5 separate regions of the Homo sapiens genome follow, and regions 2, 3, 4 and 5 are each linked to region 1. Evidence: fine-mapped expression QTL. A gene starts in region 1. Each other region holds a variant in brackets. All regions are shown on one strand. Distances are from middle to middle.

Region 1 (6,193 bases):
CCCAGGAAAAAAAAAAGGGGGTCACTGTAGGTATGTATGCTTCCTGGCCACAGAAGATCATCAGGCTCTGGTCTCCCACTCAGCGGTTCCTTAGCTGCTCTGGGCCTCAGTTTCCTCATCTGTACTCTGGTGACAATAAGTCTCATTGCATAGGACAATGATGAGGATGAAATGAGACAAGGGTATCACACAGTATCTGACACACAGTAGGTGCTCAAAATGTGCTCACTGGATAGAGGAATTTGGAGGCGCTGTGAGAGGGGGAGGTGCACTGAATTCTGATATGCGTGGGGTCCTGGTACCATCACTATCTCTGTGTGACATCTCCAAGTCTTTGCTGCCTTTTGTGGAATAGGAGTAATCCTTGCCTTGGGGATGCACTGGAATCATGGATATGAATGGAGACTGGAAAGCCACATGCACATGTGACAACATGGTGGCACCTTCCAGGTGCTCTGGCCCTCCAAACAAGTTCATGGTAAATGCTGGTCATTAGTCTCCCAGCACTGGCTGGCGGTTGGTCCAAACATCCACTTTCACATCCAATAACTCCTGGATTCTTCAGGAGGGAGGCAAGGCAGGAGTGAGCACCCCTTTCTACAGATGGAGAAACTAAACCTCTGAAGTTGCCCAGGCATGTGGTGGTAGAACTAGTCCCATAACCCTGGTCTAGAAGTTGGATTTTATGGCCAGGAGATTAGTGGCTTCATAAAGAAGGCCTGAGATCAGCTGAGGTGGACTGCAGAAGATGAACAGCTCACCGGGCGTGGATGGGGATTCTCAGAGAGCTGCCTGCAATCAAGGCCACATGAGAACAACAGCGGGCTACATGGCAACAGAGGCAAACTCCCTATCTCAGGGGTTCACTGGTGTGCACTATGCAGGGGGGAGTCTGTGAAAGTGACCCTCAGGCTGTCACACAGGTATCAATAAGATAAATGATGCCCACCAGTGTTCTCTTTCCATACACTCTCTCAGAGAGACTGCAGCACCTCCCAGGTCTTCCCCATGACCTTAATGCTGATGAGCTCCAGCCGAACCCAAATACCCCATTTTATTAACTCATTTGACAAGGGTATACTGAGCATTGACATATGTGTCAGAGATAGTGCTAGGCACTGAATACAGGGGTGAGCCAACACACATGGTCCCTGTCCCCTTGGAACTTGAGAGTCTCCTGCAGGGGACATGTACCTGGATGTTCCATGGGCTCCTCATCCTGAGTTCCCTCCTGTCAGTGACTGACCCAACCAGGCAGTCAGCCAGTTACTCCAGCCACTCCTGACATCTCCCTCATTCTATTTCCCTACTATCCCGAGACACCTCCATTGTCCCCTTCCCCACAGCCACAGCTCTAGTTCAGCTGTCACTCTCTTCTGATCACCTTCTGATGGGCTCCCTGAGTACCAGCCTTGCCCTTCCCCTAGTTTCTTCTCTATCCAATAGTCAGACTGAGCTTTTGCTACTTGGCCTAATTTGCCAATTCCCCACCCTCGGGCCTCTGCTCTTCAACTCCATCCTTTGGGCCCCTCTGTTTTTCTGGCTCATGTGATTTGCCTGGACACTCAGGGCTGTATCATGGTTTCCTAATTTGCTCACGGTGCTCTCTTGGCCTGGAATACCTTTCTCCCTCTTGTCTGCTTGCCACCTATTTCTTCTTTCAAGCCTTGGGTGTGTCCCTCCTCCAGATGCCTTTCTGGCTAGCCCCTTCCACTTGGTGGAACTGACTCCTCCTGTCACCACACCTTCTTGCACAGACTTATCACATGTCTCTACAGAACATTTCAGGGTGCATGCAGGTTCTCCCTCAGTCTCTCCCACCAGACTTTAAGCTGTCAGAGAACCAGGGGTGGGGGTGCATTAGCTCCACACCCCGCCAAGCGCAGAGCCAGGAACAATGGAATACTATTATAAAGACCATGTGTTGAAGACCCTGCATACAGCAGTCAACCTGTGGAAGAGACACATAGACCCGGGAACCACATGACCTCGAAAATGCCTTCCCTGGCCAGGGATTCCTGAGTTTCATTATTTTAACCAAGTCCCCCAGCCTGGTCACCCGCCAAGTCCAGTCAGTAAAGGAGAACTGAACACGTGGGCATCCACAGATACCCACTTAGCTGGAGTTGGGGTTGGAGGGGTGGACAGATGGGGATGGGGTGGGGAAGGCTATCTCCTGGCACATTCTTCTCTGATGCCCATAGAACACTTAGCCCAGATCTGTCTTTCCAATTAAGTTATGGGACACCTCCTCTTGACATTAGCACTCTGACCTTGGTTCCATCACCTTGTGTGTGCATGTGTGCTTATGCAACAAAAAATTATTAAGTACTCCACTAGGTACCAGGCTGTATTCTAGGTGATGCAATTAATTCAACAATTTGTACATGCCTGTGATGTGTCAAATGCTTACAAACCACCTAGGTTCTGAGAGGTTAAGTAACTTGTCCAGGGTCACACAGCTAGTAAGTAGCAAATGTACAATTTGAATCCAAGCCCGTCTGATTTCAAAGAATGTGGCCTTTCTACTGCTTTAGGCTTTCTCAGTTACACATGATGATAAAACCTACCCCTTGCTGCTGATAGGAAAACAGGTTTAAGCATGCCTAGATGAACAATCTAGGCTGATCAGTGAAACCTAAGTGTTTATTTTCCTAATCCCTGCCAGTCTCTTCTCAGCATTCACTGACCTTGGCCAAAATATCAAGAAACGGGAATCAGAATCCTGGCCTTGAGAGAGGATTGCAAAGACCATATTTTGACTTACTTAGGTCCCAGGTAAGAAAGTTAAGGTAACTGCACTGTCAGGCACACCCAAAAGTAAAAGTTTTGATTCAGCACTGAGAGGTAGAAAGACTATGGGATTCCAAGCTACCCTACTCTCTAGACGCATGGACCTCGAGCCAGTCCTTTCATCTCCCTCTGACTCAGTTTCTTGATCCGTAAAATGGGTCTGTCTTCCCTGCCTTGTGGGAACCCAATGAGGAAATGGGTGGGAATGCACTTTGCAAAGCACAAAGTTCTTGGAACTGTCGTCACCGACACTCCAAATTTACTGTGTCCACCTCACACTCGCGCCCAGCCTTGCCCTGCGAAAAGGGGACCTCACGCCGCTGGAAAGGAGAAAGTCGTTGCAGGAATTTACCTTCAGGGTAATAACCCGGCTGGGAGTCTTGATTTCGAAGATCCCCTCCTCAGCGTCCGCCTTACAGTCAAACACTGCACTGGAGAGGTCGATGCTGTCCAAGGGATTGGCATCCTGAGCGGTCCGCGAGTAATACAGCTGACATTTCCTTTCGTCGTAGAAGAACCAGCGGGATTTCCAGCCCCGGATGGGCCCTTTGCCGCCGAACTTACTTAAATACCCACAGAGTTTCTTGGGGACCGCCTCCAGGGACCGGGCGCAGTCCCCCGATTCTTCCTCCGGAGGCGGCACCTGTGGATCCCTGGCAGACTCTTCGGACCCAGGGGCAGAGGAGCTGGACTCCGGGGCGTTCTCCCCAGCGCCCTCCATCGCTGCCAGCCGGAGACTGCGGAGGGACGAGGGGTCCGCGGGACCACCAGGGACAAATCTCGGAGACTCGGCGGGCAGCTTCCCAAAGGGAGACACCTGGGCGGGGGCGGGGCCGACGGCGAACCCGCCCCCAGGAAGCCACAGAGTCGGGACCGGGTGCGGTGCGCGCGCCTCAAAGATCGCAAACCCAGGTTACGGCGGCTGGCCACGCCCCTCCACCGCCAGGCCACGCCCCCGCAGCGCTCAGTCGGCTCCCTGCAAAGCCCAGCTGCTTCCGGCTTTTTCTCCGCGCCAGTCAGCCATCTTTACTGAGGGCAGCCGTGCTCCCTGGCTTCAGGTTAAAGGCGTGGTGGCACTGAGTTAGGTTAACCGCGGGCAGAGAAGCCTGTCCCTAGCTACACTTCCCTGGTAGTTCGCATAGTCACCTAGAAAGATAGTGCTTTCTTGCACCCGATGGGCTGCTTGTTCCCTCCCTGTGCCGCGCGGGGCACCCTCGGACGGCGCATCTCGCGGCCATTGGCTGAAAGGAAGACCGCTGGGAGGCCCATCTTCCGGCGTCGCCCGGGCAGCGCGGCTCCGGAGCTGTCTGCCACTCTTCTCCTGGTGTTCCTTCAGCCCCGTCAGTGACGCCGCGGACGGCCTTCTTATCCCTCGCCTGACAGCAGTGGCCTCCCCAGCTCTCTGTCCTGGCTCCTATTCGCCTCCTGACAGCGCTGGTTGTGTTGCTTGGGGCGCCCAGGCGCGGCCGCTGCGCTGCGGAAACCCATGCCACTCCTGGGTCATAGTTGGGTGCAGTACATTTATTTTTATTTTGTTATTGCTATTATTATTTTTAGAGACGGTCTGGCTCTGTCACCCAGGCTGGAGTGCAGTGGCGCGATCAGAGCTCACTGCAGTCTCCGCCTCCCGGTCTCAAGCCATCCTCCCGCCTCAGTCTCCCGAGTAGCTGAGACCGCAACTGCGCACCACCACACCCGGCTAATTTTTAAATTGTTTTTTGCAGAGAGGGGGGTCTTGAACTCCTGGCCTCAAGCGATTCTCCTGCCTCGGCCTCCTAAAGTGCTGGAATTACAGGCGAGAGCCACCGCGCCAGGCTGTTTTGTAAATAAGTAAAAGAATTTAGGGTTTGACTAACTTGCTCAACTTCTGCCTCATTTTACCTGTTTCCCCTTAAACTTCTCCCCTTCCCTCCTAAGGCGCATTTCTCCATTAGGGTTGCGGAGCCCAATTGCGTCCAGCTTTCTTTAGGAGCTTCTTTCTGCCTTTCTCTTGCCCTTTGTTCAGCCTTTCCTCTTACTTCATCGTCTCCCCCTCAGCCGTCGTTAACGAGACCCTCATGCACACTCAGTGATATTGACAAGAAGCAGGGTGGGGGTAAAGGCGAGGGCTCTAGAGTCTATTTGCATAATTTTCAGATTCCCACTCTGCAATACTGAGTGATTTGCTCAACCTAAAAATGGAGATAACACTTCTTCCTACCCACCCCCGACCCGCCGCCAGACAACTTTACGGTGAAGCTAATGAAATTTATGTTCACTTGCATGGGTCGCTGGGATTTGTAGTCTAACAGGTGGGGAGTTGCAACCAGGGAGCATTTCTCCTAAATGCCAGAGAGCTCTTCATTTGTTATAATTTACAATTTATTTTCTCATTCTAAATAACCATCGTCATACCTAATTTTGTGTTCATAATTTTGTAATTTTTTAAAAATCAGAAGGCCCTTAATGCTGTTTAATTCCAGTCCCCACAAAACCTGGATCTACACCTGTCTACCCTTAGAGTTGTTTTGATAATTAAATAAAATAATATGTGTGAAGCTCTTAGTACAGAATGTGGGACAAAATATTTCTTTTCTTTTCGAGACAGAGTTTCGCTCTTGTTGCGCAGGCTGGAGTGCAATGGCGCGATCTCGGCTCACCGTGACCTCCGCCTCCCGGATTCAAGCGATTCTCCTGCCACCGCACCCAGCCAGTTTCTTTTCTTTTCTTTTTTTTTAATTTTTTTTTTTTTTTTTTTTTTTGATACAGAGTCTCGCTCTGTCGCCCAAGCTGGAGTGCAGTGGCATGCTCTCCAATTCCCATTCTCCTGCCTCAGCCTCCCGAGTAGCTGGGATTACATACACGCGTCACCATACCCAGCTAATTTTTGTATTTTTAGTTGAGACGGGGTTTCACCATGTTGGCTAGGATGGTCTGGATCTCCTGACCTTGTGATCCACCGGCCTTGGCCTCCCAAAGTGCTGGGATTACAGGCATGAGCCACAGTGCCTGGCCCCATTCCTGATTTTTAAAACCTCTTAATAAAACAAACAGCATACCTTATTTGTTCTAGGTTTTGTAGCTAGGCAATGATAAATATTTGAAAGAATAATTATAAATATATTACGTATACCAGAAAAACTCAAGTGGTGGCCTGTTTTAAAAAACTGTGCATATGTGTATAGATGTCTCCAGCAGCAAACAAATGGAAAATATAATGGACAACATCCCTTACATAAATGACTTACATAATGAATACCTTATTGCTTTATAGTAGGATATAAGACAAACCAAATATGTCCCTGAGTGGGAAGAGTTAATATTGTAAAGATGTCACATTCCTCAAATTAATCCATACAGTTAATACATTTTCAATCAAACTCTCGATAGGCTTTTTTTTTTTTTTTTTTTTTGAGACAGA
Region 2 (6,193 bases), 21 kb after region 1:
GTTCCTCACCTCTAGAAGTGCTCCTTCAGAAACCTCATGGTCAGAACTGGAGGTGTGATGGCAGGGCAAACAAAGGCAGACATCTTGTAAATTTCTTCTCTGAGATGCTAAGCAATGGGGACATCTGCCCTGCCAAGTCACGTCTTCCCCCTTTGGCACATATTTTGGGGTAATTAGGGAATGGGGAGAGGAAAAATATCACTCTTGCAAAGCTATGTGGAAAAGTAGAACAATTTTACTGGGAAAGGCATTTGCTTCAAGCTGACGCATGGGGTTTTTTACAGATGCTGCATTTGTGTTTAACCTGGGACCTCGGATACTCTGAGGGCCACAAAGAGATACAGAAGCCCCCCCGGGAAGAGGAAGAAGTCAATCAGATTGGCTGTCTGGGAAGCCAGCAATGGGTGTCAGGCACTTTTGGGGAGCACAAGGAAGGTTGGGCAGAATCAAGCCTCCCTGAGGAAGGGAGAAGTATGAATAACTCACAACCAATGACCTTGAAAGGGTGGGAGAAGACGTGGGTTGGGAATGTCATTATGGTTCCCAAGGCCTGCAGAGCCCCCAACCCCTCTCCCCACCCTGTCCTCTCAGAACTTCTCACCTAAACCAGTCTTAGGACTTGTAAGGGGTGGAAGTGATGCCCTGAGGTTATGGTTGGAGGCTGTCTATGGAGGTAGGGAGCACCTATATGCTTGGAGATGAGGCTTCCCCAGCTTTGAAGGATCTTACCTCTGGATGGAATTAGCAGTGGCTCCTTAGGGCTAAATGGCTATGACTGCATCCAGTGGGACTACATATAGGGATATAAATATGTGACCATATGCAATTTTTAAAACAAAAATATTGTCATTCTTTACCTATTTTTCTTCATTGCACCCCCTCCCCCTTAATATTATCTCATGGAGCTCTTTTCAAGTCAATAGATATTAGATTTGCCTTATTCCTTTTAACAGCTGAACGGTATTCCATAGTTTCACTCGCTTCCGTGTGAAGAGACCACCAAACAGGCTTTGTGTGAGCAATAAAGCTGTTTATTTCACCTGGGTGCAGGCGGGCTGAGTCCGAAAAGAGTCAGTGCAGGGAGATGGGGTGGGGCCGTTTTATAATATTTGGGTAGGTAAAGTAAAATTACAGTCAAAGGGGGGTTGTACTCTGGCGGGCAGGAGTGGAGGTCACAAGGTACTCAGTGGGGGAGCTTTTGAGCCAGGATGAGCCAGGAGAAGGAATTTCACAAGACAATGTCATCAGTTAAGGCAGGAATAGGCCATTTTCACTTCTTTTGTGGTGGAATGTCATCAGTTAAGGCAGGAACCGGCCATCTGGATGTGTACGTGCAGGTCACAGGGGATATGATGGCTTAGCTTGGGCTCAGAGGCCTGACACATAGTATGACTGTATCTTCACATTCAGGTTATTTCTAATTGTTTCTAGTTATAAATAATGTTGCAAAGCCCATCTTTAAAAAAAAAAAAATAGCCGAGGTCTCACTATGTTGCCCAGGCTGGTCTTGTCTTGAACTTCTGGACTCAAGCAATCCTCCTCCCTCGGCCTCCTAAAGTTCTGGGATTACAGGCATAAGTCACTGCAACTGACCTCCAACATTATACATATATCTTTTTAGATATTTTCTAATATTAATATAGAATATAGAACTAAAGTGGAATCGTTGGGCCTAAGAGAATGCCCACTGCTATGATTTGAATGTATGTGTCCCTCCGCAATTCATTACATTGGAAACAATACCCAATGTGATAGTATTAAGAGATGGAGCCTTTGGGGAAGTGATTAATCATGAGCACACTGCCCTCATGAATGGGATTAGCGCTCTTACAGAAGAGGTTGAAGAGGGCACCCAGTCCCTTTTGTTCTTCTGCCATCTGCTACGTAAGGACTCACCAATAAGGCACCATTTTGGAAGCAGAGGGCAAATCCTCCCTTGACACTGAAAGGGCCTTCATCAGTGGACTGACTTCCCAGCCTCCAGAACTGTGGGGAATAAATTTTTGTTAATCATAATTACCCAGTCTAAGATATTTTGTTATAGCAGCAGGAATGTTTCACGCGCATCCGTGTGAAGAGACCACCAAACAGGCTTTGTGTGAGCAATAAAGCTTTTTAATTACCTGGGTGCAGGCGGGCTGAGTCCGAAAAGAGAGTCAGTGAAGGGAGATAGGGGTGGGGCCGTTTTATAGGATTTGGGTAGGTAGTGGAAATTACAGTCAAAGGGGGTTGTTCTCTGGCGGGCAGGGGCGGGGGACACAAGGTGCTCAGTTGGGGAGCTTTTGAGCCAGGATGAGCCAGGAGAAGGAATTTCACAAGGTAATGTCATCAGTTAAGGCAGGAGCAGGCCATTTTCACTTCTTTTGTGATTCTTCAGTTACTTCAGGCCATCTGGATGTATATGTGCAGGTCACAGGGGATATGATGCCTTAGCTTGGGCGCACAGGCCTGACAGAATGGACTAACATACCCACTTATATTTTAATAGATAATGATGTCATGCCCACAAACAAATGACCATAATTTAAGTAGCAAAGAAAACAAAGTACAAGAAGATAATAAAGATAAGAGCACACATTAATGAAATCATATAGAAAAACACAGTAGAGATGCTCAACCAAACCCAAACTTGTATTTTTTCAATAGAAGAATAAAATACAACCTTGTAACTTTAGTTAAGTCAGAAAAAGGATGCATAGCAATATAACGTATGAAAAAGGGACATAATTACAAATGCAACAGATTAAAAAAATAAGTACTACAAACAACTTTATGCTAATAGTTTGAAAGCTTCCATGAAATAGACATGTTTCTAGGAAAATAAAACTTATAAAACTCACTTGCACAGAAAAAGAAAA[C/A]CAAATCTGTAACAGTTGAAGAAACTGAATTAGTAGATTAAAATCAACCTACAAAACAATTCTGCTAAACGTTCAAAGAACTGACAACTCTAGGCCAGGCATGGTGGCTCACACCTGTAATCCCAGCATTTTGGGAAGCCGGGACAGGAGGATCGTTTGAGGCCAGGAGTTCAAGACCAACTTGGGCAACATAGTGAGACCCCATCTCAATTAAAAACAAACAAACTGACAATTCTAATTTTATACAAACCCTTTCAGAGATTAGAAAAAGAGGCAACATCCCCTCAAATCATTTTACGAGGCTAGTGATGACCTTGATTCCAAAGCCAGAATGAAAAAGAAAAAATAAAGCATCAAATTTATTCATGATTTTAGATGCAAAAATCCTAAACAAAATAATGGCATACTTTAGTAATGTATTAAATAAAAAATGACCTAGTTAGGTTTACCCTAGAAATGTAAGCATCAAATATATCTACTATTAGCAAATCTAATAATGTAATTCACCAGATTAACAGATTAAAAGAGAATAATCACAATCAGTGCTGAAAAATAGTTTATGAAAATGCAACACTCATTTATGATAGCAGCTAAGGGAAATGGATCATTCCATGTACCCCATTTGGAAAAGCAGACATGATACGGGTTGGGAATGTTCCTTCACTAGAAGTGGTTGGAGGAGTCTTAACTCTTTGAGGCACAAATGCGAAATGATGGACTTTTTCCCAGTGACCAGTTGGACTCTGTGGAACCTTCTTTCCCACTTGTAGCTTCCCTTAATAATATCTCAGGCTTCTCCCTTCATGTTCAGTTACTAAGAATCACTGGACAAAATGATAGACATCTAGATCAATGGAATAGAACTAAGAATCCAGAAATAAACCCTTGCATTTATAGTCAATTGATTTTCCACAAGGATGCTAAGACAATTCAGTGGAGGAAAGAATTATCTTTTCAATTAATGGTGCTAGGATAATTGGCTACCCACATGCAGAAGAATGAAGTTGCACTCCTTACGCATACCTTACCCAAAAATTAACTCAAATGGATTGTAAATGTAAGAGCTAAAACTAAAAAACTTTCAGAAGAAAAACAGAAGTATTTGTGATTTGAGCTTAGATATGACAGCAAAAGCATAAGCAATAAAAGAAAAAAGTAAGACTTCATCAAAATTAAAAACTTTTATGCTTTAAAGAACACCCTCAATAACATGAAAAGATAACCCATTGAATGGAAGAAAATATTTGCAAATCGTGGATCAAATAAGAAACTTGTATCTAGAATACATAACAAACTCTTACATCTCAATAGGAAGAATTCAAATTATTCAACTTAAAAATGGCGCCGGGTGCAGTGGCTCATGCCTATAATCCCAGCACGTTGGGAGGCTGAGGTGGGAGGATTGCTTGGAACCCAGGAATTGGAGACTAGCTGGGCAACATAGGGAGGCTCTGTCTCTACAAAACTAAAAAAATTAGGGAGTGGTGGCTTGCGCTTGCAGTCCTAGCTACTCGGGAATTTGAAGTGGGAGGATTCCTTTAAGCCCCAGGAATTCTAGGGTGCAGTGAGCCGTTGTTATCACACCACTGCATTCCAGCCTGGGCGACAAAGTGAGGCCCCGTTCCAGAAATAAATAAATAAAAGGCAAAGGCTCTGAACAGACATTTTTGCAAAGAAGATATGTCAATGGCCAATAAGTACATGAAAAGATGCTCAATATCTTTAGCCATCAGGGAAATGCAAACGAAAACCACAATGAGATACTTCACATCTACCAGGATGGCTATGAATTTTTTTTTAAAAATAGATAATAACAAATGTTGGTAAGCATAAGGAGAAATTGGAACCCTCATACATGCTGATGAGAATGTAAAATGTTGTAGCTGCAGTGGAAAAATCTGGCAGTTCCTCAAACAGTTAAAACTAGAGTTACCATACAACCCAGCAATTCCACTCCTAGTTATATCCCCAAGAAAAACAAAGACATTATGTCCACACAAAAACTTGAGTGTTCATAATATCATTATTCATAATAGTCCAAAAGTAGAAACAACTCAAATGTTTGCTAACTGATAACATGGATAATAATTGCATAAAGTAAAATGTATACACATACTATAGACTATATTCGGCAATAAAAGTTGAGGCAGTCCTGATCCATGCTGCAATATGAATGCATTATCTTGCATTCATATTGATAACACATGAATTTTGAACCCATTATCTTAAGTAAAAGAAGCCCATCACAAAGAACCACATATTGCAAGTTCCATTTATGTGAAATGTCCAAACTTACAGAGACAGAAAGTAGATTTCGTGGTTGCTTAGGCTGGGGGAACTTGGGGAGAAATAGGGACTGTCAGCTAACTCTTCTTGGAGTGATGAAAATGTTCCAAAGTTAGATTGTGGAGATGATTGTATGAATCTGTGAATATACTAAAAAATTTGAATTGTATACTTTAATTCATTTTATTTTATTTTTTTAGGATCTCAGTCTGTTGTAGTGGCAAAATCATGCTCACTATAACCTCAAACTCCTGGGCTCAAGTGATCCTCCTGCCTCAGCTTCCTGAGTAGCTGGGACTACAGGCGTGCATCCCCCACGCCGGGCTAATTTTTAAATTTTGTGTAGAGATGGAGTCCCCTTATGCTGTCCAGGCTGGTCTCAAACTCCTGGGCTCAAGGGATCCTCCTGTCTTGGCCTCCCAAAGCATTGGGATTATAGGTGTGAGCCACCATGCCTGGCTGAATTGCACCCTTTACAAGGGTGAATTGTGTGGTATGTGGATTCTATCTCAATAAAGCCACAAAAAGTAAAGAGTCTCTGGATGTTTAAAAAAAAAAAAAAAGTGCACTCTTCCCAGGCAGGCACTTGAGGTTTCTGTGACTTGGGGCAGGGAGGGAGGTGATGAGGTTTGCTCTCCCATTCTCTATTTTCTCTGAGATATCAGGGAAAGGAGGCAAGAGAGGGGAGAGGTATCAGAACACTGCTTTCTGTGACTCCTTGCGTGAGGTTACAGTCTTCTTTCTGCTGGCATCACTTCTTTTGTTCCTATCTGGCTGTCTGTTCCTCTGCCAGGCAGGTGTCTGAGTGCTGGCTTTCCAGTGGGTCCTTCTGACACAATCCTCTGGTGAGCAAGTTCTGACTGAACTTCATCCATCTACTTTTTTCCTCAGCCTCTTAGGATGATGAAATTCTCCCAACCTTCCTCAGTGCCCACACAACCCATGGAAAACCCACATCTCCTTGCCAAGCCACCCTGTGGGAATGCCACTGGCTACCCTAGTCTTCCTCTCTTCCGCTCAGCCCTCTCTCGACCTGCCAGCAACACTGG
Region 3 (6,193 bases), 130 kb before region 1:
GCCCAGCTAATTTTTTTGTATTTTTAGTAGAGATGGGGTTTCACCATGTTGGTCAGGCTGGTCTCGAACTGCTGACCTCGTGATCCACCAGCCTCGGCCTCCCAACATGCTGGAATTACAGGCGTGAGCCACTGCGCCTGGTGAGACTGGTTTCAAACTCCCGACCTCAAGCAATCCGCCCACCTCAGCCTCCCAGAGTGCTGGGATTACAGGCATGAGCCACTGCGTCTGGCCCAGTCTTCCCCTATTCTCTGGACCACAGTTTGAAAATCACAGACAGGTCAACCTAGATCCTTCCAGCTCTAGTTTTCTACTGTGTTCTTTCCTCTTGAGAAGTTACAGCTCATCATGGGCCCTTAATAACAGAATTCAACAGAAGGCATCATCTGAAAACAAAGTCAATTCAGAAACTGTTGTTGCAAGAAGGCAAACAGAAAAACGGCACCATGTCCCACTGGAATCTCTTTCAGCGATGGAGAGTTTTGTTTTCTGGTAAAAAATATAGAAATAGTGGTTGTCCTTGAGGGGACTTGTGGTTTGGTTCTAAACCTCCCCATGGAGCCGAGTGGTGTCCCTGAGGGTGAGGAGGGCAGAGGTCTCTGCTCAGAGCTGCTCTGAGCCCATCCGCAAGTTTTTGATCTCCAGTTCCAACTGTTTGGCCTGGACCTCTCGCTGGGTCAACAGCTCCCGGAGCCTTCGGATCTCCTCCTGTTGCCGGTAGAACATCTGCAGCAACTGGGGAAGAAAGATCGGAAGGCAGGATCACCATGGTGTCAGGACACCAGCTGAAAGCTAAACCACTATCCCTCTTTGACTCAGAAAGGTGGAGGCGGTCACATTAACATGGCTGAGGCCTGATGGGGCTGTCACTGCATAGATCTTTTACAAACACCTTGTTTACTTCACCCAATAAATGAAATTCAAGAAGACTGGAATGTTTCAGATGTATTTTGCTTCCATAGATCCTCCATGAAATAGAGGAAAGGATGCCTGGCTCTGAAGTCTGGGGATTGGTGTTTTCGCCACCACTGAACTGTGTGACCTTGGGCAAGTTACTTACCCACTCTGAGCTTCCATTCCTTCCTCTGGAAAATGGGGTCAGAAAACTGCCCTCTGTGCAGAATGGGTGTTAGATATTGAGTGATGCCCTAAGGGCCTCGTTATCCCACTGGAACGTTGTGACACCCCTATAAGGGTGGCAGTGCTAGTGTCCCCACCGTACCACCGTGGAAACGGAAGCTTAGAGACATTCAGTCTCTGGGTCTAAGACCCTAAATTAGTACTCAGCAGAGCCAGGATCAGAATCCATCTGTGAGATGCCAGCCTCTGTGTTCTTAGCCACTACAGACTGACTTCCAGGGCTGTTGAGAGAATTCAATCACGTGCTGTATCAAAGTGCCTACCCCAGGATCTGCCACACAGTAGGCACTAAACAAATGTGGACTTTGAAAGCACAGAAAGTCCTATAATGTCAGAACTGGAAAGACTTTGATACCCACTAGGTCAAACCCTCTCCATTTTACAGATGGTTTCCCACCATTTTTTTTTTTTTTTTTTTTTTTTTTGAGACAGAGTCTCACTCTGTTGCCCAGGCTGGAGCGCAGTGGTGTGATCCTGGCTCACTGCAGCCTCTGCCTCCTGGGTTCAAGCAATTCTCCTGCCTCAGCCTCCAGAGTAGCTGGGACTACAGGCACGCACCACCATACCCAGCTAATTTTTGTATTTTTAGTAGAGACGGGGTTTCGCCATGTTGGCCAGGCTGGTCTCAAACTTCTGGCCTCAAGAGATCCACCCGCCTTGGCCTACCAAAGTGCTGGGATTACAGGTGTGAGCCACTGCACCTGGTCACCTGGTCCCCACCATCTTTTTTTTTTTTTTTTTTTAAGATGGAGTCTTGCTCTGTTGCCCAGGCTGGAGTGCAGTGGTGTGATCTTGGCTCACTGCAACCTCCACCTCCCAATTTCAAGCCATTCTCCTGCCTCAACCTCTCAAGTAGCTGGGACTACAGGTGTACGCCACCACACCCGGCTAATTTTTGTATTTTTAGTAGAGATGGGGTTTCACTATGTTGGCCATGCTGGTCTTGAACTCCTGACCTCATGATCTGCCCGCCTTGGCCTCCCAAAGTGCTGGGATTACAAGAGTGAGCCACTGTGCCCAGCCTCCCACCATCTTTATGTATGCCCATCATTTTGGCATAAGATGGAGCTCACTGCCTGTTTGTTGAATGAATTAACAAAATGAGTCAAGTGACTAGGCCAGGCCACACAGCTGGTTATTCTTCTCATGCCTCATTTTCTCCCTTCTTCTCAGCCTGGATCTGTTCCCCTCCACCCCAGCTGCCCCATGTGAAAGGCCCACCCCGTCCTCCTTCACACCTCATTCTCTGTCTTTGGTGGGGGGCATTCGAAAACGTCAAAGCCATTTGTCAGCCAGGTTTTCTTCTCCTCCAGCCTGTGTTCTGCTGCCCACCTTGGCATCTTCTCCTCCAACAGGGAGGAAGACCTCCAGCCATCTTCTGCAGCCAGCTTTTCTGTCTGATTCAAGAGCCGGGGTGAGGCTGGGGCCATGGAATTGAAGATAGGTCTCTCTGCAGGCAGTGGGTGGGGTCTCAGCAGCTCAGAGCCAGGCCTAAGGGACACCAGGATTGGGTCTGGAAGGGAAGCAGAGCCATGTGAGGACGGGGTGCCCACGGGAAGATGGGCATATGGGGCACCAATGACACAGGCAGGCATGCAGAGACACTCAGAGCCATGCAGACCCATGCAACATGTGTGGGAAATACAGCTACCTGTGGACAGGCCCAAACCCACAGAGCAGGGCTAACAGATACAAATACCCACGTGTGCCACCCTCAGAGTGAAGCTTGGTTTGTAGGAACAGCACGGTGCGTGCACTGAAGCAGCCCCCAAACACTTCAAACTCACATGAGACCTTGCCCTTGCTTTGTAAGGACAGTCCCACCCACACTGCACCCCACCATCTACCAAGTTCATTAGTTCTCTCACCACCTCCAGAAAGCAGGGGAGGCTGGCATCATGGCTACAGATGAGGAAACTGAGGCCCAGGGAGCAAAACCTACTTAAGGTTATCCAAAACTAGGACTCGGCCCTGGTCCGCTGCCCCCCAAGGCAGAGGCTCTTCCAGTACACCAGGAGGCCCGCTCAGCCACTGGGGTGGGGGTGAAGGAAGTTTGTGGGGGTGGAAGGGAGAGGGAGCAGCTGGGGTGACTGCTTCTGCTGGGCTGGCCCCCGTGTTGGCAGGAGCGGGAGAGTGGCTCAGGACAGGCAGAGTGGGCAGAGGGACCTGGGTG[G/A]GGGTTGCTGCCTGGAGGGCTTCTTGGGTCAAGAAGAATTGCAAAAGGCCAGGCCCAGTGGCTCGCACCTGTAATCCCAGCACTTCGGGAGGCCGAGGCAGGTGGATCACTTGAGGTCAAGAGTTTGAGACCAGCCTGGCCAACATGGCAAAACCCCCATCTCTACTAAAAATACGAAAAATTAGCTGGGCATGGTGGCACGTGCCTGTAGTCCCAGCTACTCAGGAGGCTGAGGCATGAGAATCACTTGAACCTGGGGGTGGGGTGGAGGTTGCAGTGAGCTGAGATTGTACCACTGCACTCCAGCCTGGGCAACAAAGCGAGACTCTGTCTCAAAAAAAAAAAAAAAAAAAAAAAAAAAAGAATTGCAGAGGTAGGGGTGGGGAACAGGGACAGGGAGTCTGGCTGAGGTGGTCCAGGCACCCCACATAGCCCCAGAGTGTAAAGAAGCTTTCCGTGGGGCAAAGTCCCTTGAGTTGGAGTTTTCTGAGCTCTTGGGTCAAGCCCCCTGACTTTCTGGACCTGTATGTGACCATGCTACCCACTGGGGACTGAAGGTCAAGGGCATGGCTTCTGAGGTCATGAGAGAAGAAAAATCCAGGCCCAACCCCTCTCAATTGCTTGGGGCCACTGGGCACGCCATGTTCCTGTCACATTTGCCTGGGCCTCTTCTCTGCCTTCCTCACCTCGATTCATCCCGCTGAGCCACTCCTGGGCCGTCAGGGAGGGCTGGGCCCCTGCTGTTGGAGGGTATATGTCCTCTTGGTAGGATTCTGACTGCAGGAGAAATCCAGACAGTGAGGAGGGTGGTAGGGTAGGCTGCTCAGATGGGAAAGGCCCTTAGACCTGGGAGTCCAGGCTCTCACCAACCCCTGCTGAATTGAGGAAACTGAGGCCCAGAGAACAAAGGGACTTGCCCGAGGTCACGCAGCAGCTCAAGAACAGAGGTGGACCGAGACCCAGGACTCCTGACGCCCACTGATGTCACACTGGCTGTGAGAAAGGCCGCTCTGTGGCTGCCCCATGAACGTGGGCTCCAGGCTCTGGTGCCCGACAGCCCTGGGTCTGTCTTCTCCAGGACAGGTTCCCCACCTGCCTCCCATGCGGTCCCGACTGCCCTTACCCGCCGGGGCACAATCATGGAGATGGGCTCGATGAGGCTTTTGGTTGTGATCAGCTTGTAGAAGCGGAAGATCTCGCAGGAGGACACGTCGAGTCCTCTCTTTGGCATGACACCTGAAGGCAGACAGGGAGGGCCAAGAGGTTCTGGCTAGGCTGGGGCCACAGTGTTAGGGCCAAAGCCAGGCTGCACACCTGGACCTGAACAGAGACCAGTCTCCTCCCAGAAAACAGCTCAGGGACAAATACCGACACTGGGCTGGGCCCTATGTTGGGAAATGGAGTTGAATTAATCAGACTCTTCACCTTCAAAGATTTAAATTATTTTAGCTGAATTTTTTTCTTTTTGACACAAGGTCTCACTCTGTTGCCCAGGCTGGAGTGCAGTGGCACAATCATAGCTCACCGCAGTCTCACACTCCTGGGCTCAAGCGATCCTCCTGCCTTAGCGTCCCAAGTAGCTGGGACCACAGGTATGCACCTCAATTTTTTTATTTATTTGTAGAGACAGGAGTCTCACTTTGTTGCCCAGGCTAGGCTCGAATTCCTAGGCTCAAGTGATCCTCCAGCTTTGGCCTCCCAAAGTGCTGGATTAGCTGAACTTTTATAGGCAGTTTGCTCTGCTTAAGGTTCCCCATCTCCATCCCCACAGCTCCTGTGACCCAAATGCTCTTAATCAAACCGCTCCAGATTCCTTTTGAGTAGGGTTAGCAGGGTGCATCTTTCTCCAGTCCCTTACTTTTAATCTAGCCATGTCTTTATGTTTAAAGTGGGTTTCTTGTAGATTACAGAAATATAGCTGTGTTTTTAATCCTCAAGCACACTTAGAAAGGAACTGAGGACTGCTTCCTAGAGGCTCTTCTAGGTCAGCCCTTTCCATCTCTGCTCTTGTGGTAACTGCTTAACCTTGACCTAGAACACATCCCTCTCTCCCCTGCTGGGCTCTGCTTCCTCTTTCAGTTCCTCCAATGTTGCCTCCTCTGAGAAGCCTTCCCTGACTTCCTCCTTTGTGCTGTTGCACACGTCAAGTACAGCCCCCACCAAGTCAGAGTGTTGCTATGCTGTCTCTCCTCCCATCTGACTCATCCCTGTCTCCCCAGACCCCGCACTGAAGCCCTGACCCTGATTCTCCCACCTCGGCCTCCCGAAGTGCTGGGATTACAGGCATGAACTTCAGTGTCCCTCACTTACCGATCCCCTTCTGTGGGTTATAGGAGCGGTACTCAGTCAGGTAGCTCAGGTGAGGCTTGTCGGCGCTCACCTCGTAGTAGCGGATGTTGCCATCTCCCTGAGGAGGAGGAGAAGGAAGAGGAGGGTGAGATTCAGAGCTGGAGCTCATCAGCTCATCAGCAACCCAGCCATGCAGCAAAGACCTGGCTTTTTTTGATGATCGGCAAACCCATCTCACTCAAGGGAACACCAGGAAACTGGGGGCCCTGTCATCAAGGCAGGAGGGTGATGAGGGGATATTCATTTTATTTTAGATTTTATCTTATTTTTTTGAGACAGGGTCTCACTTTATTGCCCAGGCTGGAGAGCAGTAGTGCAATCACAGCTCATTGCAACCTCCTGGTCTCAAGCCATCTTCCCGCCTCAGCCTCCCGAGTAGGTGGGACCACAGGTGTGTGCCACCACGCCTGGCTAATTTTTTATTTTTTCATTTTCGTAGACATGGGGTCTCACTATGCTGCCCAGGCTGGCCTTGAACTCCTGGGCTCAAGTGATTCTCCCACCTTGGCCTCCCAAAGTGCTGGAATTATA
Region 4 (6,193 bases), 41 kb before region 1:
TGTATAAAGCCCTTCCCAGGGTGCCTGGCACAGAGCAAGCTCTGCAGGTGGTATGACTGAACAGCGCCCAGGGGATGGACACTGCCCTCATGCCCTCTGCTGCTGCCACCTAGGCTCCTTCTGTTCCTCCAACACACACCCCTCCCACTTCACAGCCCTCCTGCACCCTCTTCCCTTGCTTGGGACACTCCCCCCAACCCTACCTCACCTTGAACTTTTGTGTTTACATTTATACAAGCTGGGTGGTGCTAGGCAAGTCAGGCAAGTTCCTTGTTTTCCATTTTTGTGAGATGGGGACAGTGAAAATCCACTCATAGCACTGCCATGATCTCTGGGCCACCCCGAATCCTATCTCATCCTGGGGTGGCAGCAGGGGAACAATTCTGTTGCACCCTTGCCCGGTCGCCATCTCCAAACACTTGCCGGGCACCAGCTCCAAGCCATCCTCTGTGCCTGTTCTTCTACCTATCCCACCTGGTGCCCACCTCTGTTGCCTGGGCTGCTTCCTGAGTCCCATCGTTAACACCTGTTTCAGGGATTCCTTTTTTTTTTTTTTCCTGAGAGAGTCTCGCTCTGTCATCCAAGCTGGAGTGCAGTGGCATGATCTTGGCTCACTGCAACCTCTACCTCCGGGGTTCAAATGATTCTCGTGCCTCAGCCTCCTGAGTAGCTGGGATTACAGGTGTGCACCACCACGCCCAGCTAATTTTTGTATTTTTGGTAGAGGCGGGGCTTCACCATGTTGCCCAGGCTGGTCTTGAACTCTAGCCCCAAGGGATCCACCTGCCTCGGCCTCCCAAAGCGCTGGGATTACAGGCCTGTGCCACCGCACCTGGCCCCTTCTCAGGGATTTCTGCTGCTGATTCCAAACAATCTCCCTACTTCCAGGCCCACCTTCTCAAGCCCACCCTCCTGAGCAGTCACAGCAGTCTTCTTGGAACAGGAACAGAAGTCTGATTGAGGACTTCTCCACTCAGAATCCTTCAGCTCCCCAGTTTCCTTGGAGTAAATTCCAAACTCCTCAACTCCAGCCTCATGTCTCACTCTCCCTAGCCCTGCCCCCCACCTCTCAGACCACACGTCTTTACTATGCTGTCTCTTTTCCTGGAAGGTCCTTCTCCACTGCTTGCCTGGATAACATTAACTCATCCTTAGGACTCAATTCAGAAGGTACCTCCTCCAGGAAGCCCTCCCTGACTTTCCTTCCTCCCTTTGGGCCCCCAAGAATCCCACAAGTCCAAGTGCATCTTTTTTTTTTTTTGAGACAGAGTCTTGCTCTGTTGCCCAGGCTGGAGTGCAGTGGCGCAATCTCGGCTCACTGCAAGCTCCGCCTCCCAGGTTCACGCCATTCTCCTGCCTCAGCCTCCCGGGTGGCCGGGACTGCAGGCGCCCGCCACCATGCCCGGCTAATTTTTTTTTGTATATTTAGTAGAGATGGGGTTTCACCGTGTTGGCCAGGATGGTCTCAATCTCCTGACCTTGTGATCCACCCGCCTCGGCCTCCTAAAGTGCTGGGATTACAGGTGTGAGCCACCACGCCTGGCCCCAAGTACATCTTGATTGGGTTACACTCCCTCACTAGTCTATACCCTCCTTGTAGGCAGGAACCAGCCTTATTGGTCTTGATGTCCCTACCCCACAGCTACTCAGTGAACGCTGCGGAACAAATGACTCAATCCCCCGACCACAGGGGTCTGGAGAAGAACCTGATATGGGCCCTGCTCACAAGGGGTCAGTTCAGAGGGAGAGGGGCAGACAGGAAATGAGGAGAGTGAGACGGAGTGGGCAGCATGGGGACCAGCAGAGGGGCCAGGGATGGAGACGGCTGGAATAGGGCCCCACCCCGCACCTTCGTCAGAAGGGCCTTCTCCTTCTCAGCCACCTTTCTCCAGATCTTTGTGACCTGGTGGATCTCGGAGTTGAGGAAGCAGTTCTGGGTCCGGTAAGCTTCCATGTCATCCTGGAGAAGAGAGTAAAATATGTTATCAGTTGGACATAAACATCTCCCTGGTCCTGGGGAGTCACACCCTCAAATGAGCCCCCAAAGCTTCTTTTCCTTAGAAATTTCCAATAATGGCAACAGAAGAGGAAGTCTGAAAGAAAAATAAAATACTCATAGCACCCTTCTCTATTCTTGATGTCAGCATGATGTGGTAAAGGGACCAGTAGGTCTGAATTTAAGTCCTGGCTGATGTTCTGGCTGGAAGGCCTCAGGCAGGCCACTGAACCACTCTGACCCTCTGTTTCCTCATCTGTAAAAGGGGCAAATACCAACTAACCTACTGGGCAGTTGGGAAACTAAGTGAGATAATGTGTGACAACA[C/A]TAAGTACAGGGACCAAAACATAGCAAGTGCTCAAGTAGTGTTTGTTTTTAAAATCAACATATTTTATCATATATTTACAATCATACTGTAAAATTAACTCAGTGTCACTTTGTAAAACCTTTCAATGTTGCTACATAAGCTTCCCAGTGATCATTTTTAACCTCTGGTGATGATTCTATTGGGTGAATTTACCAGAACTTACTCATAATCCTTTTCCTGTCATTTTTTAATTTGAACCTGGGGTGTTTGCAGTTGGTTTTTGATTATGAATAATGCTGTGATAAACATCTCTGAGTTTTCCTTTTGCAAGTTGCCCATCCAGTGGAGGGAATGAGCTCCCTGCTGCTGGGGCATACAAGGAGAAGCCAGACAAGCACTGGGAAGGTTCAAGCAAGGACCTGAGCCTCAGAGAAGGATCAGCTATAGCAGTGGCTCTCAATTCTGCTGGGATGGACATTACAGAAGCCGTTCAGTCACGTAACACATTCTTAGAGCTATACCTCACAATTCCAGGGTATTTACTGGCTGAAACTCAGGCCCTTTCTCTCCCATTGATGTATGGGCTGGAGGTGAGTGCAAGCGATGCTGCAGCAAGGATGACTCCGACATGGCCAGGTTGATTTGGAAATGAAGAACATCACATGTGCAAGCGATGCTGCAGCAAGGATGACTCCGACGTGGCCAGATTGATTTGGAAATGAAGAACATCACATGTGCAAGCGATGCTGCAGCAAGGATGACTCCGACGTGGCCAGGTTGATTTGGAAATGAAGAACATCACATGTGCAAGCGATGCTGCAGCAAGGATGACTCCGACGTGGCCAGGTTGATTTGGAAATGAAGAACATCACATGTGCAAGCGATGCTGCAGCAAGGATGACTCCGACGTGGCCAGGTTGATTTGGAAATGAAGAACATCACATGTGCAAGCGATGCTGCAGCAAGGATGACTCCGACGTGGCCAGGTTGATTTGGAAATGAAGAACATCACATGTGCAAGCGATGCTGCAGCAAGGATGACTCCGACGTGGCCAGATTGATTTGGAAATGAAGAACATCACATGTAGTTTGGGGCACATCCTCGTCAGGGTCACATGTGCACAGCCCACAGGTGGTCCTGGCCCTCCCTGGGTGGGTCTTCACTCTGGCCAAGATGATCTCCAAGGTCTCCCCAGGCTGGAAGCTCCGATGCCTGCCCAGGGGCTGCTGCCCTCCGCCCAGAGCCTGACACACTAGAAGGGCCTCTGCTCCCAGGGGAGGGAACGAATGCCCCCTGTTGACTTTATCACATCACCCCTCACCACTCCACGGGGGCTCTCTGTGGTGCCCCAACCCAGGCCACCCCTGCTTTCATCTCCCTCGCTGTGCCAAGGCTGAAAGGCTGTGCATCCACTCAGCTTGCTCTCTGCCTTCTGGCTGGACCCAGGCAGTTCCAACCCCTGGCGCCACCCTCCTCCCCCTATCCAATCCTGTCCCTGACCTAGATAAAAAACCAGCTTCACTGCCTCTCAAAAATGCTGCTGTGTGCGCCAGCCGCTCTGCTGGCAAGTTTCTGCCTGCTTCTTCTCCACAGTCCCCATATCCTATCCTTATGTGGCAAGAAGTGAAAATCTTGTTTGTGGCACAGGGACCAGTCTCCCATGAGCATCAGGCCTTTCCTGGACCACTCCCCACTCTCTCTGGAGTCTAACACTTTACTGTCTGGAGATATAGAAACTTATGAATACAGAGGCTGTGCAGGCTTCCGGCATCACCCCCATCACCAACACCACGCAGCATATATTCTCTCACTTCATCCTCCTAGCAACCCTAGAAGGGATGTTCTTTTATTATTCCTATGACACAGATGAGGCCTCAGAGGCTCTGAAAGGGTAGGCAACTTGCCTAAGGCACAGCCAGTATAAGGCAGATGTGACCAAACCCAGGTCTGTCTGATTCTTTTTGTTTGTTTGTCTTGCTCTGTCGCCCAAGCTGGAGTACAGTGGCGTGATCATAGCTCATGGCAGCCTCGACCTCCTGGACTCAAGCAATCCTCCCACCTCAGCCTGTCAAGTAGCTGGGACTATAGGCAGGCACCACCATGCCTAGCTAATTTTTTGATTTTGTAGAGACGAGGTCTCACTATGTTTCCCAGGCTGTTTTCAAACTCCTGGCCTCAAGCAATCCTTCCACCTCGGCCTCCTAAAGTGTTAGGATTACAGGCATGAGCCACTGTGCCTGGCCAGGACTGTCTCATTCTAAAGCCCTAATCACCAAACTTCCTGCCGGGCACCATCTGAGCTCCCCACCAGCTGGAATCCACCTGGATGCCCACACTCTAGTCCCTACCCTCCAAGCGTTGTCCTTTGGTGTCTCCTGGCTACACGCATGCAGGCTTATGTGACCTCTCCTACCCATCAGACAGTATAACAACACATCAAAGACGCTGGAGTTGGCCATGTACCGGCACCGCCTGGTGGTCAGTGGCATGAATGCTGCGGGCACGCTGTCTGGGTGGAAATTCTGTCTTGACCACTGAGCCCCTGGACAAGTTACTTAACCTCATCCTCTCATCTGGAAAATGAGGATAATAACAGTACTACCTCATGTGGCTGGGAGAGGATTCAGTGAGTTAATATGTGCAAAAGGCTCAGAACGGTGCCTGGCATGTGGCAAGTGCAACGTGAGCGTGAGCATCGTCTCCCTCACTGAGTTTGCATGACAGCTCGAGAGCTACTATTCCCCACCCTGCACCCACCCCCTCAGTCGGCTCACAGAGTTCGGAATCCAATGCCCGGGAAAATACAACAAGCCCCCCCGCAAGGGAGGAAAGGACCTACCATGACCTGACCCATCTCCCTCATATCCACAAGGCTGTGGGATAACTATTAAAGTGCCCTAATTCCCATTTAACAGATGAGGAAACACACACAGAGAAAGTAAGTTCCCCTTGTCACGAAAGAGAGCCAGGATCCAAACCCAGGTGTGTTCAGCCCATGGCAGGTGCTCAGCAGACACTGCGTAGAGAAAGCAGACCCAGCTCTGGCGCTGGCCACTGCTCCACACCACTGGGTCTCCCTCCTTGATATCACCCCTTCCTCCTCCCAGGCCTAGATGTGCTCATGGATATTTATTTATTTTTCTTTCTTTTTTTATTTTTAGAGAAAGGGTCTCACTTTGTCACCCAGGCTGGAATGCAATGGCATGATCATAGCTCACTGCACTCTTGACCTCCTGGGCTCAAGTGATCCTCCTGTCTCAGGCCCCTGAGTAGTTGGGACTACAAGTGTGTGCCACTACACCCAGCTAATTAATTTTTAATTTTTTAAAAAGGTCTCATTATGTTGCCTAGGCTGGTCTCAAACTCCTGGCCTCATGCAATCCTCCAACCGTGGCCTCTCAAAGCACTGGATTGTGAGCCACCACGCTTGGCTACACACTGTTATTTCTAAGGCTTTGGAAAGAAGGCTTTTGTCACATAAGATACCCTGCTTCCAGCTCTAGGGAAGGCACAGACATGCCGGACAGGGAGGCAGAGTGAGCACAGCCTGGAACAGCAGTGGCAGTGGGTGGCGTCGGGCAGTACCTCCCCCTCCAGCTCGATGCCCTACCTTGAGTGCTCGTCTTGGCTCAGAACTGTAGGGAGGAAAAAGAGAAACCTCAGAAAAGAGAAAAGCCACAGGACAGTCACCAGTGGAATGAAAGAAGGAAAACCCTGGAGAAGGGGGACCAGGGAAGCAGGAGCCCGGGAATTCTCTTTGGGCCATGCCCATGGACTAGGCCCTGTGCTGTGTGGAAGGCAGTGGCCTGGGCATGGGAGGCCAGGTTCCGGCTGTAGCCCTGCCTCTTGCTGCCTGACCCTGGGCCAGTCCTTCTCCCTTGCCCCAGCT
Region 5 (6,193 bases), 24 kb before region 1:
GGAGAGCATTTTTTCTAGATTTCTTCCCACCAAAATAGGGCAGAAAAGAAAAGAAGAAATGTACAAGTTATAAGAAATATTCAGAAGGTAATAGGGCATAAGCCCCACCTCCCCAGCCTAAGTCCTCTGGAGTCAGGGCTGGAAAACAAAGCAGAAAGGGCCTCCGGGCAGCCAAAGTTCAAACACAAAAGCTTAGGCCTTCCTCTAGAGGAAAAGGAGTCTGGGCCCTCACTGGAGCCCGCCACTGCCACCACAGGTCCTACCAGGCCCCACCGTTGGGATTTATGTAACAACTGCCTAACTTAGTCGCTTTTATCACTCTAAAGAGGGGCTCCCGCCCGGAGCTGCAGCCCTCTCACATCTTTGCCCTGGGACCCTCACTACTTCATAAGGTAGCCCCTGGCTTTTAATACCATTTACTCTCTGGGATGTAGGATTTTGGAGTAGTTTTAATGTCTGTGTGTATGAGATCTGTTTTCTACAATTATTATATAGCTCTTGTAACTCTCGTAATTAACTTCTTACCATATTAAGCCCAAATATTCCTTTCACTGTTTCTGTGTTGGTCCTGGCTTAGCCCTGGGCCACACACATGCTGCTTGTTTGCTTTCTCCTGTGACAGTCTTGTGACGGTCATTCAGATATCTGTGCCCAGATATCGGCTGCCAGGTCAAAGTTCCCCCCAGTTCTATCGACAGCCCCTCCCATGACCCTGCATCCAGATCACCTGCCTCTAAATAATGTCATTTTCTGGGTAGGGGGTGAGACCATGCATGGCCCTCCAGGAGGGGTCCAAGAGACAGTTATTAGAGTAGATCTCCAGAGATACCTGCCCTTGGTGCCCTTTTGTGACTTACTTTGAGTGACATCAGGTTCTTGAGTAATCAACAGCATATTTCAACATTCTGCAGTTTGGCCTTTAAAGACCAGAGAGTAGCTGGTGCCCAGCACGGCTAATGCGTCCCATCTAGCTTATCCGAAAGGCTCCAGGAACTGGAGGGGTCCACTGGAACCTGGGGCCTCCCTGGGACCAGACCTCACCTTCTGAGACTTTAACTCCTTGGTGAGCATCAGAACCTGTTGCTCCAAGGCTGCCACTTTCTCCTGGGCAGTTCGGTTCCGTGTGATTCCTTCAGAAAAGAATGGGAAGGTGTTGTTCTGGCGCTTGGCTTTCTGAGCGAAACTGATGGTCAGAGAAGGCTTGGGTGCAGGCTTTGGAGAATCCTCTGGCTCTCTCCCTGCTCAAGAGGAGAAACGCAGAAGTTATGACTGATGACATCAGCAGTTCTCAAACCTGAGCTTGCTTTAGAAGCACCTGGAGGGCTTGTTAAAATGCGGATGGTTGGGCCCTAATTTCGGAGCTCTGGATTTAATAGGTCTGGGGCAGGGCTTGAGAATATGCACTTCTAAAAAGTTCCTAGGTGATGCTGACACAGCTTGTCCAGGGGTTAGACTGTGAGAACCACTGGCCTACATAAACGTTATTGCACTGTGCTGGCCCATCTGCTAAACTGTGCCTGTCTCCTTCCTTCAGATCCCACCCAGCCTGCATTGGTCTATCTCATGCCACCCTGCTGGTGTTTGCCAAGTGGCTTTCTCCTCAGGCACAAGCCCTGGCAGGATGTTCTGTTCCTTATTTCAGGATCCCACCTCTATGTACTAGGAGATTTTCAAAGCACACAGATCTGTCTGATGATAGGAACACAAAATGAATGTCTGTACTCTGCATTCTTGCTCCAGAGAGCAGCTCAAGCATTTAACTTGATTCTTCTTATTCCAAGCTAAGTTAAGAGATATATTTCCCCCACAGTTGATTGTCTCAAGGATGCATAGTCCTTTTATCTCCTGGGTTACAACCTATGGTTCACAGGCCAAATCCAGCCCACAGCCTGCTTTTACAAATAAAGCTTTATTAGAACACGGCCATGCCCATTTGTTTATGTGCTGTCTATTGCTGCTTTTACTCCTCAAAGGCAGAACTGAGTGCTTAAAACAGAAACCCTATGGCCCACAAAGCCTCGAATCGTTACTATCTTGCTCTTTACAAAAAATGTTTGCCACCCACTGTTTTTAAGTCATCAAAATTTTATTCTTAAATCAAACCAAACATCAGAGAATCATTCCCTTGTGTTGCCTTGTCCTGCCCTGACCCAGCTGTGCTTCTGGTCTCTGCCATCAGCCTGCATCAAGGGACATTTAAGGGCCTGACTATGTAGCCAAGGGCCCTTGAGAAGCTTGTTCACATGGGATATATACATCATGCCTATTATGAGTCCCCAGCAGAAGAAATTCCCTTCAGCCCTAGGAACTTCCAAGAAAAGCTTTGCTTCTTATAAGAAAATATGTTTTTAGTCTTATGGACACTGGAAATAATCTAGCTGCTTGCATTTCCCTCTTTGCCTTGGCTGCTGAGCTTACAGCCACATTTACTGCCTACTCTCAGATATTTTGTAGGATCGTAAATTGATCTTATCTAAATCTCCTAACCAAATTACTCATTTGCAGGAGTATGCATTTTAGTAAACTATTACCTATTTCTTGGGACTAAAGTGTTAAAGGTGTTGAAAATAAGAATGTGGTATGGCATCCCAGGATAGGGGACACGCAGGGCTTTGGGGATAGGCCAAATGACTTAGCATGAGACCAGGCCAAGGGCTGGCCAAACAGTCTTGAACAAATAAAGAGTTACTCCAGTAGGTGACAGGAACCAGACACTGAGTGCAAAAACAGTACCTTGCTCGGCCGGGCGTGGTGGCTCACGCCTGTAATCCTAGGACTTTGGGAGGCTGAGGCGGGTAGATCACTTGAAGTCAGGAGTTCGAGACCACC[C/CT]GGCCAACATGGTGAAACCCCGTTTCTACTAAAAATACAAAAATTAGCCAGAAATCACTTGAACCCGGGAGGCAGAGGTTGTAGTGAGCCGAGATCATGCCAGTGCGCTTTAGCCTGGGCAACAGAGCGAGACTCTGACTCAAAACAAACGAACAAAACAACAGTGCCTTGCTGAGTGCAAAACCAGAACAGTCTTGTTCCAGATCGAAGAGAAATCAGGTTACACTGGGTACAAGGCAGCCTGCAGAGCTCAGAAATATGTACTACCTCTTTCTCCTTCCTGTAATGGGGTATAGGGGAGCAGGGAAGCTCCTTGTAGCACTGCTGCCCTCTGATACATGACTGTGCACCAACTCTGAGGACAGGCAGGGCAGGCCTCACAGTGCCCAGTTTATAATTAGAGAAAATAAGGCCTAAGACAGTGGTGTTCAATCAGTGCCCTGGATTTCATAGGAGTGCCTCAAGGGCTGACTGGGAGAGGAAGGTGGAGTAAGAGGAGCAGAGGAGGAGTCCAGACTCCAACTCCAGCCTCAACTCTGCTTTTTTTTTTTTTTTTTTTTTTTTTAATTTGTAGCTCATTTAGAGTCTCAAAAAGAATTTAGGTGTTTTTTATTAGTGTTCAAGAAACTCATTTGTACATATTAGAAAAGATTTATTGACATAAAAATAATCTTTTCCTCCATTTAAAAATCTGATTACAACCACTGTTTAACACAGTGTAAACACCGTTTAACACAGTTTAACACAGTGTTGAGATATTCAACACTTTATTAGAAAATAGGTTTTGTGTTAGATGATTTTGCCCAAATGTATGTGTTCCAAGCATGGTTAAGATAGACTGGGCAAAACTATACTGTTCAATAGGTTAAGTATATTAAATGCATTTTCAACTTATGATATTTTCAACTTATGGTGGATTTATCTGCTTTATATATTAGATTTTGTTCTGTCACTCACTCTGTGGCCGTGAGCAAGTCACTCCACCCTTCCATGCCTCAGTTTCCTTATTAATCTAATGAGGATAACAACAATATATACAATATATACAGTTCCAGTTGCTGTAAGAATTAAATAGGTCAAGGTAGGTAAAGTGCTTGGTACACACAGATGAAACTTGAAAAGATTCTACTAAGTCAAAGAAGCCAGTCACAGCATGGTATATTCCTTGGTATATTCCACTCACAGCAGATGTCGAGAACAGGCACAGCCATAGAGAAAGAAAGATGAGTGGCCACCTAGGGTTATGGGGCAGTGGGGATTAAGGTTGATGACTAAGGGTGCAGGTTTCTTTTTGGGGTAATAAAAATGTTCTAAAATTGATTATAGTGACGGCTGCATAATTCTGAGGATATACAGAAAGCCACTGAATTACACATTTTAAATGGGTGAATTGTATAGTACATGAATATATCTTAATAAAGTTGTTGCCAAAAAAAATGCTTACTGCCGCACTGGCATGAAGTAACTGCTAGTGTTATGATGATGGTGACTCATCCGATATAGCACTGGCCTTCTCTTGGACTGCTTGTTGTGCTCTCTAGGGCTCTGCCAGGCACTGACTGCTCCAAAGGGTGCTTTTTCTTTTCTTCTTTCTCTTTTTCTGTTTTTTTTTTTGACAGTGTCTCACTCTGTCACCCATGCATGATCACGGCTCACTGCAGCCTCGACCTCCCTGGCTCAAGTGATCCTCCCAGCTGAGCATCCCAAGTAGCTGGGACTACAGGCTTGCACCATGATCAGCTAATTTTTTTATTTTTTTGTAAAGACAGGGTCTCCCTGTGTTGCCCAGGCTTGTCTTGAACTCCTGGGCTCAAGCAATCCTCCAGCCTTGGCCTCCCAAAGTGCTGGGATTACAAGCGTGAGCCACCATGCCCAGCCTCTTCTTAATTTTTTACTCTGAAAAAATTATAGACTCACAGGAAGTTGCAAAGATAGTGCAGACATGTCCCAAGTACTCTTCACCAAGCTTCCCCTGATGGTGACATCTTACATAGCTATAGTACACTATCAACTCTAGGAAACTGGTGTTGGTACAATATGTGTGTATAGGTCTATGCCATTTTATCACATGTGTACATTTGTTTTTGGTTTTGTTTGAGACGGAGTCTCACTCTGTCACCCAGGCTGGAGTGCTGTGGTGCAATCTCGACTCACTACAACCTCTGCCTCCCAGGTTCAAGTGGTTCTCCTGCCTCAGCCTCCTGAGTAGCTGGAATTGTAGGCACTGGCCACCATGCCCAGCTAACTTTTGTATTTTTAGTAGCGTGGTGGTATTAACAGGTGGGGCCCTTGGGAGGTGATCAGATTTAATGTCATGAGGGTGGAGCCCCTGATAAGATCAGTACCCTTAGAATAAGCAGCAGAGACCAGAGCTCTTTCGGCCACGTGAACACACAGTGAGAAGGTGGCCATCTATCTGCAAGCCAGGAAGGGAGCCCTCACCACACATTGAATCTGCCGGCACCTTGATCTTGGACCTCCCAGCTTCCACACAACTGTGAGAAATAAGTATCTGTTATTTAAGCCACGCAGTCTATGGTGTTTCAGTAAGTAGCCCAAGCCAACTAAGACACACACAAAAGCACAAATGCTGGTTCGCTGGAAGGAAAGAAGGCACTTGTGCCAGCCGTGAGGAGCTGGTCCCTGAAGGCAGCTCAGCCCTGGACAGAGGCTCACCTGGGGTGCTGGCGTCAGAGGCCAAGGGCTGCTCCTCCCTCTGAGGCTCCCCACTCTGTGGAGAATCTTCCCCTGGAGGTTCATGGCCTGTTCCCTGGGCCTGCTTGTTGCCACGGATGTTGTGCATTGTGTTCCTGAAAGGAGACAAGAACAGAGGAGCATGAGGCTGAACCCTGCCTTTCTGCCCTTCTGTCCTTCCCGCCACCACTGCTGGAGCTCAGGTCTCATCCCCACACCCTGTCATCCTGACTGGTCTCCCAGACTCCAGGCACCCTACATGATGCCTCCCCATGCATGGCACTCCCAATCTCCTTTACCTATCTCTTTCGCATTCTCATCTTCCACACACTATGTGGCTTATAAGTAATACAAGCTTGACTTCCTTAACCCCCACCCCTGCAGCTGGAATATAAATGCCATGAGGCGGAGGTATTGTCCGTTTTGTTAACTGATGCACCTACAATGCCTAAACGGTGCCCAAAACATAGAAGGTGCTTAATATGGGTGTGTTGAGTGAATGCTGAATGGACTTGCTGAACCAACTTTCCCGAAACCTTCATCTGGTTTCATAACTATCTGGCTCAAAAACCATCAGTGGCTCCCGACTTCTGCTGAGATAAGTTGCAAACATCTCCTGGCATCTTTCCCTGCTTGCTCTCTTTCCCTGCTCAGATCTGTCCTCTGTGCA

Alleles and levels. Positions count from the first base shown, and alleles are read on the strand shown. Sizes are in standard deviations (SD) of each study's normalised expression. Not every link is listed here.
In carriers of allele A in region 4, the expression in monocytes after Pam3CSK4 of the gene that starts at base 3,622 in region 1 tends to be higher than with C alone (large effect, 1.0 SD a copy in Quach 2016).

The links. PIP is the estimated chance that this variant, and not a neighbour inherited with it, causes the effect. A credible set is the group of variants that fine-mapping cannot tell apart.
Region 2: its variant is the best candidate, but not a certain one, in a credible set for the expression of TBC1D2 in whole blood (TOPMed, PIP 0.78).
Region 3: its variant is the best candidate, but not a certain one, in a credible set for the expression of TBC1D2 in whole blood (INTERVAL, PIP 0.81).
Region 4: its variant is the best candidate, but not a certain one, in a credible set for the expression of TBC1D2 in monocytes after Pam3CSK4 (Quach 2016, PIP 0.53).
Region 5: its variant is the best candidate, but not a certain one, in a credible set for the expression of TBC1D2 in whole blood (TOPMed, PIP 0.63).

What each region holds. Positions count from the first base shown.
Region 1 is chr9:98,252,028-98,258,220 of GRCh38, forward strand. It overlaps TBC1D2 (TBC1 domain family member 2), which reads right to left and starts at 3,622. Exons shown (of 13, transcript NM_001267571.2): 1 at 3,146-3,622. The coding sequence starts at 3,514. RefSeq lists a silencer at 3,637-3,686 and an enhancer at 3,857-4,346.
Region 2 is chr9:98,272,850-98,279,042 of GRCh38, forward strand. No RefSeq gene overlaps it. Among named protein-coding and RNA genes, the nearest start is that of TBC1D2, 20 kb to the left of the region's middle. RefSeq lists enhancers at 1,005-1,538, 1,571-2,105, 2,106-2,638. The variant C/A (reference allele first, on the strand shown) is at 2,859.
Region 3 is chr9:98,124,171-98,130,363 of GRCh38, forward strand. CORO2A (coronin 2A) reads right to left here. Exons shown (of 12, transcript NM_052820.4): 8 at 5,624-5,720; 9 at 4,437-4,549; 10 at 4,000-4,090; 11 at 2,379-2,653; 12 at 1-735. The coding sequence ends at 604. Among named protein-coding and RNA genes, the nearest start is that of TRIM14, 8.0 kb to the left of the region's middle. The variant G/A (reference allele first, on the strand shown) is at 3,314.
Region 4 is chr9:98,211,259-98,217,451 of GRCh38, forward strand. TBC1D2 (TBC1 domain family member 2) reads right to left here. Exons shown (of 13, transcript NM_001267571.2): 7 at 1,850-1,960. Among named protein-coding and RNA genes, the nearest start is that of MIR6854, 15 kb to the right of the region's middle. The variant C/A (reference allele first, on the strand shown) is at 2,324.
Region 5 is chr9:98,227,911-98,234,103 of GRCh38, forward strand. TBC1D2 (TBC1 domain family member 2) reads right to left here. Exons shown (of 13, transcript NM_001267571.2): 4 at 5,506-5,639; 5 at 1,042-1,238. MIR6854 (microRNA 6854) reads right to left here and starts at 1,307; the gene lies at 1,239-1,307. The variant C/CT (reference allele first, on the strand shown) is at 2,830.